Linked DNA regions of Homo sapiens: region 2 is linked to region 1. The links come from fine-mapping of genetic effects on gene expression. Tissue or cell type: whole blood. Region 1 holds a variant in brackets; the other region holds the start of a gene. All regions are shown on one strand. Distances are between the middles of the regions.

Evidence for each region. PIP is the estimated chance that this variant, and not a neighbour inherited with it, causes the effect.
Region 2: RPLP0 starts here. The variant in region 1 is fine-mapped to the expression of RPLP0 in whole blood (TOPMed, PIP above 0.99).

The regions. Positions count from the first base shown.
Region 1 is chr12:120,274,177-120,279,323 of GRCh38, forward strand. No RefSeq gene overlaps it. Among named protein-coding and RNA genes, the nearest start is that of PXN, 11 kb to the left of the region's middle. The variant A/T (reference allele first, on the strand shown) is at 2,694.
Region 2 is chr12:120,198,124-120,203,270 of GRCh38, forward strand. It overlaps RPLP0 (ribosomal protein lateral stalk subunit P0), which reads right to left and starts at 2,988. Exons shown (of 8, transcript NM_001002.4): 1 at 2,960-2,988; 2 at 2,607-2,708; 3 at 1,187-1,362; 4 at 995-1,082; 5 at 731-877; 6 at 431-616. The coding sequence starts at 2,660. PXN-AS1 (PXN antisense RNA 1) reads left to right here and starts at 3,168. Exons shown (of 4, transcript NR_038924.1): 1 at 3,168-3,303. RefSeq lists enhancers at 73-572, 692-1,633, 2,674-2,743, 3,144-3,503.

The DNA of each region.
Region 1 (5,147 bases):
GCTGGGACTACAGGTGTGCACCACCACATCTAGTTATTTTTTTTAATTTTTTGTAGAGCTGGGGGCCTCCCTATGTTGTCCAGCCTGTTCTTGAACTCCTAGGCTCAATCAGTCCTCCAGTCTTGGCCTCCCAAAGAGGTAGAATTACAAGCATGAGCCACTGTGGCCAGTCCAGTGTGATCATCTTTTCATGGCATTTAACATTCTTCTGAAACATCAATTCCTTGGGTAAAACAGCATTGCATCATATAATTGTACCAGGATTTACTTAGCCAATCTCCTGATAAAATTTAGTTAGTTACAAATTTTCACTATAATCAGCAATGCTAGGACAACATCCTTATAGTTAAATCTCGGAACACTTCCTTAATGATTTCCTGCAGATCAGTTCTTAAGGAGTGGAAGTGTGAGGTTAAGTGTCGCGTTAGTCCGTTTACTATGTGTTGACAAAGTGTGGTCTATAACTGCTGTATCTAGATAAATATATCATGTATATTTCATGAGTACTGAGTTGACATGCAACACTGTAGGGTGGTCCCAGGCATAATTCTCCCAAATGTAGTGTGACTAACTGCCACTGGTGGAATGAGAGGTTGTAGCTAGTACAAAGATTTATTATTTTATTTGTATTTTTTGCAGACACAGAGAGGTCTCACTTTGTTGCCCAACTGGTCTCAAACTCCTGGGCTCAAGGAATCCTCCCACCTCGACCTCCCAAAGTGCTGGGATTACACACATGAGCCACCATGCCCAGCTCAGTTTTTTTTTTTTCTTCTTTTCAAGACAGAGTCTCGCTCTGTCGCCCAGGCTAGAGTGCAGTGGCGCGATCTCGGCTCACCGCAAGCTCCACCCCCCGGGTTCACGCCATTCTCCTGTCTCAGCCTCCCGAGTAGCTGGGACTACAGGCGCCTGCCACCACGCCTGGCTAATTTTTTGTATTTTCAGTAGAGACGGGGTTTCACCGTGTTAGCCAGTATGGTCTCGATCTCCTGACCTCGTGATCTGCCCGCCTCGGCCTCCCAAAGTGCTAGGATTACAGGCGTGAGCCACCGCGCCCGGCCAGATTCCTTATTTTAATAGTTACATATTTATGTGTTAGAAAATTATCTAATTAGCACATAAAACCTGTGATGGCTCCAATATTATTTATTTATTTATTTTATTTATTTTAATTTTTGAGACGGAATCTCGCTTTGTCACCAGGCTGGAGTGCGGTGGCACAATCTTGGCTTACTGCAACCTCCGCCTCCCGGGTTCAAGTGATTCTCCTGCCTCAGCCTCCCGAGTAGCTGCGACTACAGGCACCCACCACCATGCCTGGCTAGCTTTTGTATTTTTAGTAGAGATGGGGTTTCACCATGTTGGCCAGGATGGTCTCGATCTCTTGACTTCATAATCCACCTCCCTCGGCTTCCCAATGTGCTGGGATTACAGGCATGAGCCACCGCGCCTGGCCCAGCTCCAATATTATTGTTTAGGATAAAGATAAGGTTTTTTTGTTTGTTTGTTTGTTTTAAAGTGGGTCCACTTAAAGAAAACTATGTAGGGACGGGCACAGTGGCTCACGCCCATAATCCCAGCATTGTGAGAGTCTGAGGGCTGAGGAGGGTGGATCACCTGCGGTCAGGAGTTCAAGACCAGCCTAGCCAACATGGCAAAACGCCATCTCTATTAAAAATACAAAAATTAGCCAGTGTGGTGGTGCAGGCCCCGTAGTCCCAGCTACTTAGGAGGCTGACGTGGGAGGATCACTTGAGCCTGGGAGGCGGATGTTGCAGTGAACCGAGATTATGCCACTGCACTCCAGCCTGGGCGACACAGCAAGACTTCATCTCAAAAAAAAAAAAGAAGATTTGAGCTAGAATTCCAGTTTTCCTCAGTTCCCATTTGGGGATCCTGGGAGAGTCTCTCAGCCTCAGTTTTCTCATCTGTGAGATGGGGATATTGAGAATTCTTCTCCATATGGCATGCCTGCCTGGAAGGGCTTATAAACAAAGAATTGTGTCTGGGCATGGTGGTTCATGCCTATAATCCCAATACTTAGGGAAGCCGAGGTGGGCAGATCACTTGAGGTCAGGAGTTCGAGACCAGCCTGGCCATCATGGTGAAACCCCGTCCCTACTAAAAACACAAAAATTAACTGGGTGTGGTGGCGTGCACCTGTAATTCCAGCTACTTGGGAGGCTGAGGCAGGTAGAATCACTTGAACTCAGGAGACAGAGGTTGCAGTAAGCTGAGACTGGGCCACTGCACTCCAGCCTGGGCAACAGAGTGAGACTCCCATCTCAAAAAAAAAAAAAAAAAAAAAAAAGTTAAAGAAAACAAAGAATTATAAGGTCAAAAAGGATCTCAAGAGATTCTTCAACCTTTTCTCAGGTGAAGGGGGCTGGATTTCCACCTTCATCCTCCTCTCTATCACCTAAGGACCCCATATGTTGACCGGGTGTCCACCTGGAAGTCATCCTCTGTTCCTCCCCGTCCTCGCTTTCCACACCCAGTTCTGCCTGTCCATCTGCAAAGTGTAGCCCAATTCCCACCCCCACCCCCTCATTTTCACCTCTGCAATTATATCTCTAGGTGCAGCCACGCACTACCCTCTCTTGCCTGGGATTACTGCATGAACCTCCAAACTGGACCTCTATTGTCAATTTTCTACCCAGAAGCCAATAAGCCAATGTTATCTTTTTAAAAAA[A/T]TTTTTTTGAGATGGAGTCTTGCTGTATCACCCAGGCTGGAATGCAATGGCGCAATCTTGACTCACTGCAACCATCACCTCCCAGGTTCAAGCCATTCTCCTGCTTCAGCCTCCCAAGTAGCTGGGACTACAGGCACGCTATCACGCCCGGCTAATTTTTCTTATTTTTAGTAGAGACAGGGTTTTGCCATGTTGCCCAGGCTGGTTCTGAACTCCTAACCTTGGGTGATCCACCCCCCTCGGCCTCCCAAAGTGCTGGGATTACAGGCGTGAGCCACGGCACCAGCCTAATGTTATTTTATTTTATTTTATTTATTTATTTATTTCGAGACGGAGTCTCACTCTGTCGTCCAGGCTGGAGTGCAGTGGTATGATCTCGGCTCACTGCAACCTCCGCCTCCCAGGTTCAAGTGATTCTCCTGCCTCAGCCTACTGGGTAGCTGTGATTACAGTCACACGACACAACACCTGGATAATTTTTTGTATTTTTAGTAGAGACAGTGTCTCACCATGTTGGCCAGTCTGGTCTTGAACTCCTGACCTCTGGAGATCCGCCCCCCTCGGCCTCCCAAAGTGCTGGGATTACAGGCGTGAGTACCCGGCAATGTTATGGTTTTTTTGTTTTTTTTTTTTAGTATTTATTGATCATTCTTGGGTGTTTCCCAGAGAGGGGGAAGTGGCAGGGTCATAGGATAATAGTGGAGAGAAGGTCAGCAGATAAACACGTGAACAAAGGTCTCTGGTTTTCCTAGGCAGAGGTCCCTGCGGCCTTCGGCCTTCAGCAGTGTTTGTGTCCCTGGGTACTTGAGATTAGGGAGTGGTGATGACTCTTAAGGAGCATGCTGCCTTCAAGCATCTGTTTAACAAAGCACATCTTGCACCGCCCTTAATGCATTTAACCCTGAGTTGACACAGCACATGTTTCAGAGAGTACGGGGTTGGGGGTAAGGTTATAGATTAACAGCATCCCAAGGCAGAAGAATTTTTCTTAGTACAGAACAAAATGGTGTCTCCTATGTCTGCTTCTTTCTACACAGACACAGTAACAATCTGATCTCTCTTTCTTTTCCCCACATTTCCCCCTTTTCTTTTCGACAAAACCGCCATCGTCATCATGGCCCTTTCTCGATGGTCGCTGTCTCTTCGGAGCTGTTGGGTACACTTCCCAGGCGGGGCGGCCTGGCAGAGGCGCTCCTCACCTCCCAGAAGGGGTGGTGGCTGGGCAGAGGCGCCCCTCACATCCCAGACGATGGGCAGCCGGGCAGAGGCGCCCCCCACCTCCCTGATGGGGCAGCCGGGCAGAAACGCCCCCCACCTCCCAGACGGGGTGTCCGGGCAGAGGCGCCCCCCACCTCCCAGATGAAGGGCGGCCAGGCAGAGGTGCTCCCCACCTCCCAGACGGGGGAGCCGGGCAGAGACGCCCCTCACCTCCCAGACGGGGTGGCTGGGCAGAGGCGCCCACTTCACAGACGGGGCGGCCGGGTAGAGGCACTCCTCCCAGATGGGGTGGCGGCCGGGCAGAGGTGCTCCTCACATCCCAGACAGGGTGGCGGCCAGGCAGAGGCGCTCCTCACCTCCCAGACGGGGTGGTGGCCGGGCAGAAGCGCTCCTCACCTCCCAGACGGGGTGGCGGCAGGGCAGAGGCGCTCCTCGCCTCCCAGACAGGGTGGCAGCCGGGCAGAGGGGCTCCTCGCTTCCCAGACGGGGCGGCCAGGCAGAGGTGCTCCTCGCTTCCCAGACGGGGCGGCCGGGCAGAGGCTGTAATCTTAGCACTTTGGGAGGCCAAGGCAGGCGGCTGGAAGGTGGAGGTTGCAGCGAGCCGAGATCACGCCACTGCATTCCAGCCTGGGCAACACTGAGCACTGAGTGACCGAGACTCCGTCTGCAATCCCAGTACCCCAGGAGGCCGAGGCGGGCAGACCACTCGAGGTCAGGAGCCAGAGACCAGCCCAGTCAACAGGGCGAAACCGTGTCTCCTCCAAATATACAAAAACCAGTCAGGCGTGGCGGCGCGTGCCCGCAATCCCAGGCACTCGGCAGGCCAAGGCAGGAGAACCAGGGGAGCCCGGGGCAGGGAGGCTGCAGCGAGCCGAGACCACGGCAGTACAGTCCAGCCTTGGCAACAGAAGGAGACCGAAGAAAGAAAGAGGGAGCGGGTGAGGGGGAGGGGGAGGGGGATGGGGGAGGGGGAGGGAGCTGTTATGTTTTTTTTTTAAAAATCAACTTTATTGGGCTAAGTGCAGTGGCTCATGCCTGTAATCCTAGCACTTTGGGATCTTGACATAGCTGATCTCAGATCTTGGCATAGCTGTTCACGTGCCACCTCTGTGGGTCCTGAACATTTTATCTAAAGTCTCCCCGTACCCCACCAAATCAGACTCCTTACCCTGGTATTTGTTGAGGTTCACCTTCTGCCATTATATTCTGCGTTTATTTGTGTACTTGTTTATTATT
Region 2 (5,147 bases), 76 kb before region 1:
GTGGCTCATGCCTGTAATCCCAGCACTTTGGGAGGCCGAGTTGGGCGGATCACGAGGTCAGGAGATCGACACCATCCTGGCTAACGCGGTGAAACCTAAAAATACAAAAAAATTAGCCGGGCGTAGTGGCGGGTGCCTGTAGTCCCAGCTACTCAGGAGGCTGAGGCAGGAGAATGGTGTGAACCCGGAGGCGGAGCTTGCAGTGAGCCGGGAGATTGTGCCACTGCACTCCAGCCTGGGCGACACAGCAAGACTCTGTCTCCAAAAAAAAAAAAAAAAAATCCTTCAACAATCTTATGTTGTTACTGACATTTTACAGATGAGGTAGGTAGACAGATGAAAACACAGTCCTTGGTTACAGGGACTCAGTCTGAACCTTGTCATGCTCTCAACCATCAGTGTAAGAGGGGGCAAGGCTGACAGCATATACCTCCAGGAAGCGAGAATGCAGAGTTTCCTCTGTGATATCAAGCACTTCAGGGTTGTAGATGCTGCCATTGTCGAACACCTGCTGGATGACCAGCCCAAAGGAGAAGGGGGAGATGTTGAGCATGTTCAGCAGCGTGGCTTCGCTGGCTCCCACTTTGTCTCCAGTCTTGATCAGCTGCACATCACTCTGAACCAGATAATAGTGGGGCAGTAAACACCTGTTGGACAACCAGCAGATCCATGGCCACTAAAAGCAGCTCCCCATTTGCCTGGTTAGCACAGGCAAACCAGGTCCACTCACCAGGATTTCAATGGTGCCCCTGGAGATTTTAGTGGTGATACCTAAAGCCTGGAAAAAGGAGGTCTTCTCGGGCCCGAGACCAGTGTTCTGGGCTGGCACAGTGACTTCACATGGGGCAATGGCACCAGCACGGGCAGCAGCTGGCACCTGACAAAGACAACAAACAGTGAGAAAAGCCTCTCCACTCACACAACCTGAGAATGGTCCATTTTGCTTTAAGGAGCAACAACAAAGTCTCTTTAGCCAACCCAATTGTCCCCTTACCTTATTGGCCAGCAACATGTCCCTGATCTCAGTGAGGTCCTCCTTGGTGAACACAAAGCCCACATTCCCCCGGATATGAGGCAGCAGTCTGCAAAGAGAAGTTTATGGGAGACAATCACCTTTCAGCACCATTCTCCAGGAAGAGGGAGACGGGCACTGGGGAGAAAGGACAAAACTGCCAGGGGAACTGACTTCTCCAGAGCTGGGTTGTTTTCCAGGTGCCCTCGGATGGCCTTGCGCATCATGGTGTTCTTGCCCATCAGCACCACAGCCTTCCCGCGAAGGGACATGCGGATCTGCTGCATCTGCTTGGAGCCCACATTGTCTGCTCCCACAATGAAACATTTCGGATAATCATCCAATAGTTGCTACAAAAAACAAGCCAGAGGAGCCAAGTTTAACAGGAAGAGAGAGGGAAAAAATGCCAGAAGAAACTGAACCCCACAATTTGTTTCCATCCCACTCCCTTTCTTCTAAGCTTTTGAAGTCAGAGGGAGATTGGGAGCTACGTTGTAACACTGCCAAACTGGATGATTGGCTAGCTGGGTATGAACGCTGAAAATTAGGTTTCTACATTCAATCAAGGAGTTTTTTCTTTTTTTACTTAGTTTTTAATTTTTCCCAATTACCAGGCATGCTTCTGATTCACTAAAATGGTTAACAGGATAAAAAAGGAATGTTCCAAGTAAGTTGGTCAAGAGGAGGGCTAGATTCACAGCATTAAAAGCACCACGTTAAGCAAATATAGCAACATTATTATTTGTAAAAACAATCTAGGCGTGTTTATCCGGATTGTTACACAATTCCTTTGGGTTTTGTGTCTGAAAACCTTCTAAGTGTGGGAAAATGTAATACAAGCTATGCTCTACAATGCTGCCTAATTGCTTAAGCGCAGTACAGTCAGCATTTCTGGGCAAGGGAGACCCACCTCAAAGGCCATCCAAAAGTCATTGGACACTTAAGTTTCTTGGCTGACAGGTCCTAAATATGCAACAGCTTGCTTCCTTACAATGAGTCATTCCTGACCTCAGACCTTCTCAAAAATGGAGTAAAACTGTAATGTGCGGCCGGGCGCGGTGGCTCACACCTGTAATCCTAGCACTTAGGGAGGCCGAGGAAGGTGGATCATGAAGTCAAGAGATCGAGACCATCCTGGCCAACATGGTGAATCCCTGTCTCTATTGAAAATACAAAAATTAGCTGGGTGTGGTGTCGCGCCCCTGTAATCCCAGCTACTCGGGAGGCTGAAGCAGGAGAATCGCTTGAACCTGGGAAGCGGAGGTTGCAGTAAGCCAAGATCAAGCCACTGCACTCCAGCCTGGACAACAGAGCGAGACTCCGTTTAAAAAAAAAAAAGTATAAAGCGCGCTCTTTTAGAAGCCAGACAGACCTGGATACGAATGCTGTCATCTTAGGACCCACTTAACTTGCCTGAGCCCGTTTATCTGCAACAGAAGGGACCTATCTCAGGAAATTGTTAACTAAACAGTATTTTCCCAAAAATGGCCTAATTCAGTAGCCGGTGTGAGTAGACCCTCAGCACATAGCAGCTGACTGTCCCTATTTGCGCTGGGGCAACATGAAGAGCAGAGGCGACCCACCCTGCACTTACGATGATCTTAAGGAAGTAGTTGGACTTCCAGGTCGCCCTGTCTTCCCTGGGCATCACGGCGGTGCGTCAGGGATTGCCACGCAGGGTTTAAAGACGATGTCACTGAGGAGAGACAGGGAGCTCAGGCCTGGTCACGCCGACACCCATCCCGCGGTCCCGGGCCTAAGAGGAGCAGGACACGCGCAATCGCCCGCCGGCCCTGCCTAGGGCAGCGGCCGTCATCTCGGGGCGTGCAAGCCGCCACCGAGGCCCCAGGCGGAACAGAATAGGACTCCATGTTCCCAAAGGCCCCCAAAGACCCCTCCATGCTTCCCGCCGGCGACCCCTGGCGCCCATCTAACTAGCACACGAACCTTCCACGAGGACGCCTGGCGAGAGAAGGGCCTCGCGCCCGCGCGTGCCTTTTATAATGCGAACAAAGTAGCCAATCAGAAACCGCGGATAGCGCTCCTGTCTATTGGCTGCGCCATCGCCCGTCAGACAAAGCTGAACGAATACAGGCAACCATTGGATAATATCGCTGCCACTCCAGCCAACGGAAAGCCGCCTTTAAGTAGGGTCGCGAAGGAAGGCGCTGCCTCGCGTTGGAGGAGCTTGCTCTGAGCTGCTGCCACCTGCTGGGCTGGAGCTGGAGCTGGAGCTGCGAATTCGGAGTCCCGGTTCCCTGTGCCACCTGGCGAGCTCAGCAAACTAAAAGGTATGACGTGGAGCTGAGACATAATTGCACATGCTTAGAAACAGAATGGTTTCTCTTTTTTTTTTTTTTTTTGAGACGGAGTGTCGCTCTGTCGCCCAGGCTGGAGCGCAGTGGCGCCATCTCGGCTGACTGCAAGCTCCGCCTCCCGGGTTCACGCCATTCTCCTGCCTCAGCCTCCGGAGTAGCTGGGACTACAGGCGCCCGCCACCGTGCTCGGCTAATTTTTTTTTTGTATTTTTAGTAGAGACGGGGTTTCATCATGTTCTCCAGGATGGTCTCGATCTCCTGACCTCGTGATCTGCCCGCCTCGGCCTCCCAAAGTGCTGGGATTACAGGCGTGACCCGCCGCGCCCGGCCTCAGAATGGTCTCTCGTCTTCTCTAGTTTTTCCGCCTACCAAAACAGAGGGATCCTTTAAAACCTGGCCGGGCGCGGTGGCTCACGCCTATACTCCCAGCACTTCGGGAGGACGAGGCGGGTGGATCACCTGAGGTCAGGAGTTCGAGACTAGCCTGGCCAACATGGCAAAACCCCGTCTCTACTAAAAATACAAAAATTAGCCAGGTGGGGTGGCGCATGCCCGTAATCCCAGCTACTCAGGAGGCCGAGGCAGAAGAATCGCTTGAACCCGGGAGCTGTGAGCTCTGCAGTGAGCTAAGATCACACCATTGCACTCTAGCCTGGGTGACAGAGAGGGACTCCATCTCAAAAAAAAAAAAAAAAAAAAAAAAACCTAAGTCAGCTCATCTCCTTATCTGCTTAAAACTTTCCGTTTCCTACAGAGTAAAAATCTAAAACCTAAAGTACCTACAAGGCCCTTACCTATCTGTCCCTCACGCCCACTCTGATCATCTCAGATGTTTTCCTCCTCACTTACTTGCTTTCTACCCAGATGATGCTCTGCTGCTTTTCCAGAGCAGGCTTTACTTGGGGGCTTTTGCATTAGCCATTCCCTCTTCCTAGAAAACTAGCCAACAAACATCCATAGAATAATTCACCTCCATCAAATCTTTTTTTTTTTTTTTTTTTTTTTTTTTTTTTTTTGAGAAGCAGTCTCACTCCGTTGCCCAGGCTAGAGTGTAGTGGAGCAATCTCAGTTCATTGCAGACTTGACCTCCCAGGCTGAAGTGATCCTCCCACCTCAGCCTCCCAAGTAGCTAGGACTACAGGCACACACCACCACGCCAAGCTAATTTTTTGTACTTTTTGTATAGATGGGGTCTTGCCATGTTGCCTAGGCTGATGTCAAACTTCTGGGCTCAAGCAATCCTCCCACCCTGGCCTCCTAAATTGCTGGGATTACAAGAATGAGACACCTTGCCCAACCCTGAGATCTCTTTTTTTTTTTTTTTTTCACTGAAACCTATGGAATTATGTATTAAATGATCCCCAAAGAATCAGCTATTTCAAAATTAAAAATTATTACAAAGAGCTTCATACATCATGTTATATCCTATATCACACACCATAAAACTGTCAGAAGTAGGCCGGGTGCGGGGGCTCATGCCTGTAATCCCAGCACTTTGGGAGGCTGAGGTGGGCAGATCACGAGGTCAGGAGATCCAGACCATCCTGGCTAACACAGTGAAACCCCGTCTCTACTAAAAAATACCAAAAGTTAGCCAGGAGTGGTGGCGGGCTCCTGTAATTCCAGCTACTTGGGAGGCTGAGGCAGGAGAATTGCTTGAGCCCAGGAGGCAGAGGTTGCAGTGAGCTGAGATTGCGCCACTGTACTCCAGCCTAGGTGACAGAGCAAGATTCCGTCTCAAAAAAAAAAAAAAAAGTTAGAAGTAGCTCGATTTCACGTTACTGTATTTCTTTTTCTTTTCTTTTTTCTTTTCTTTT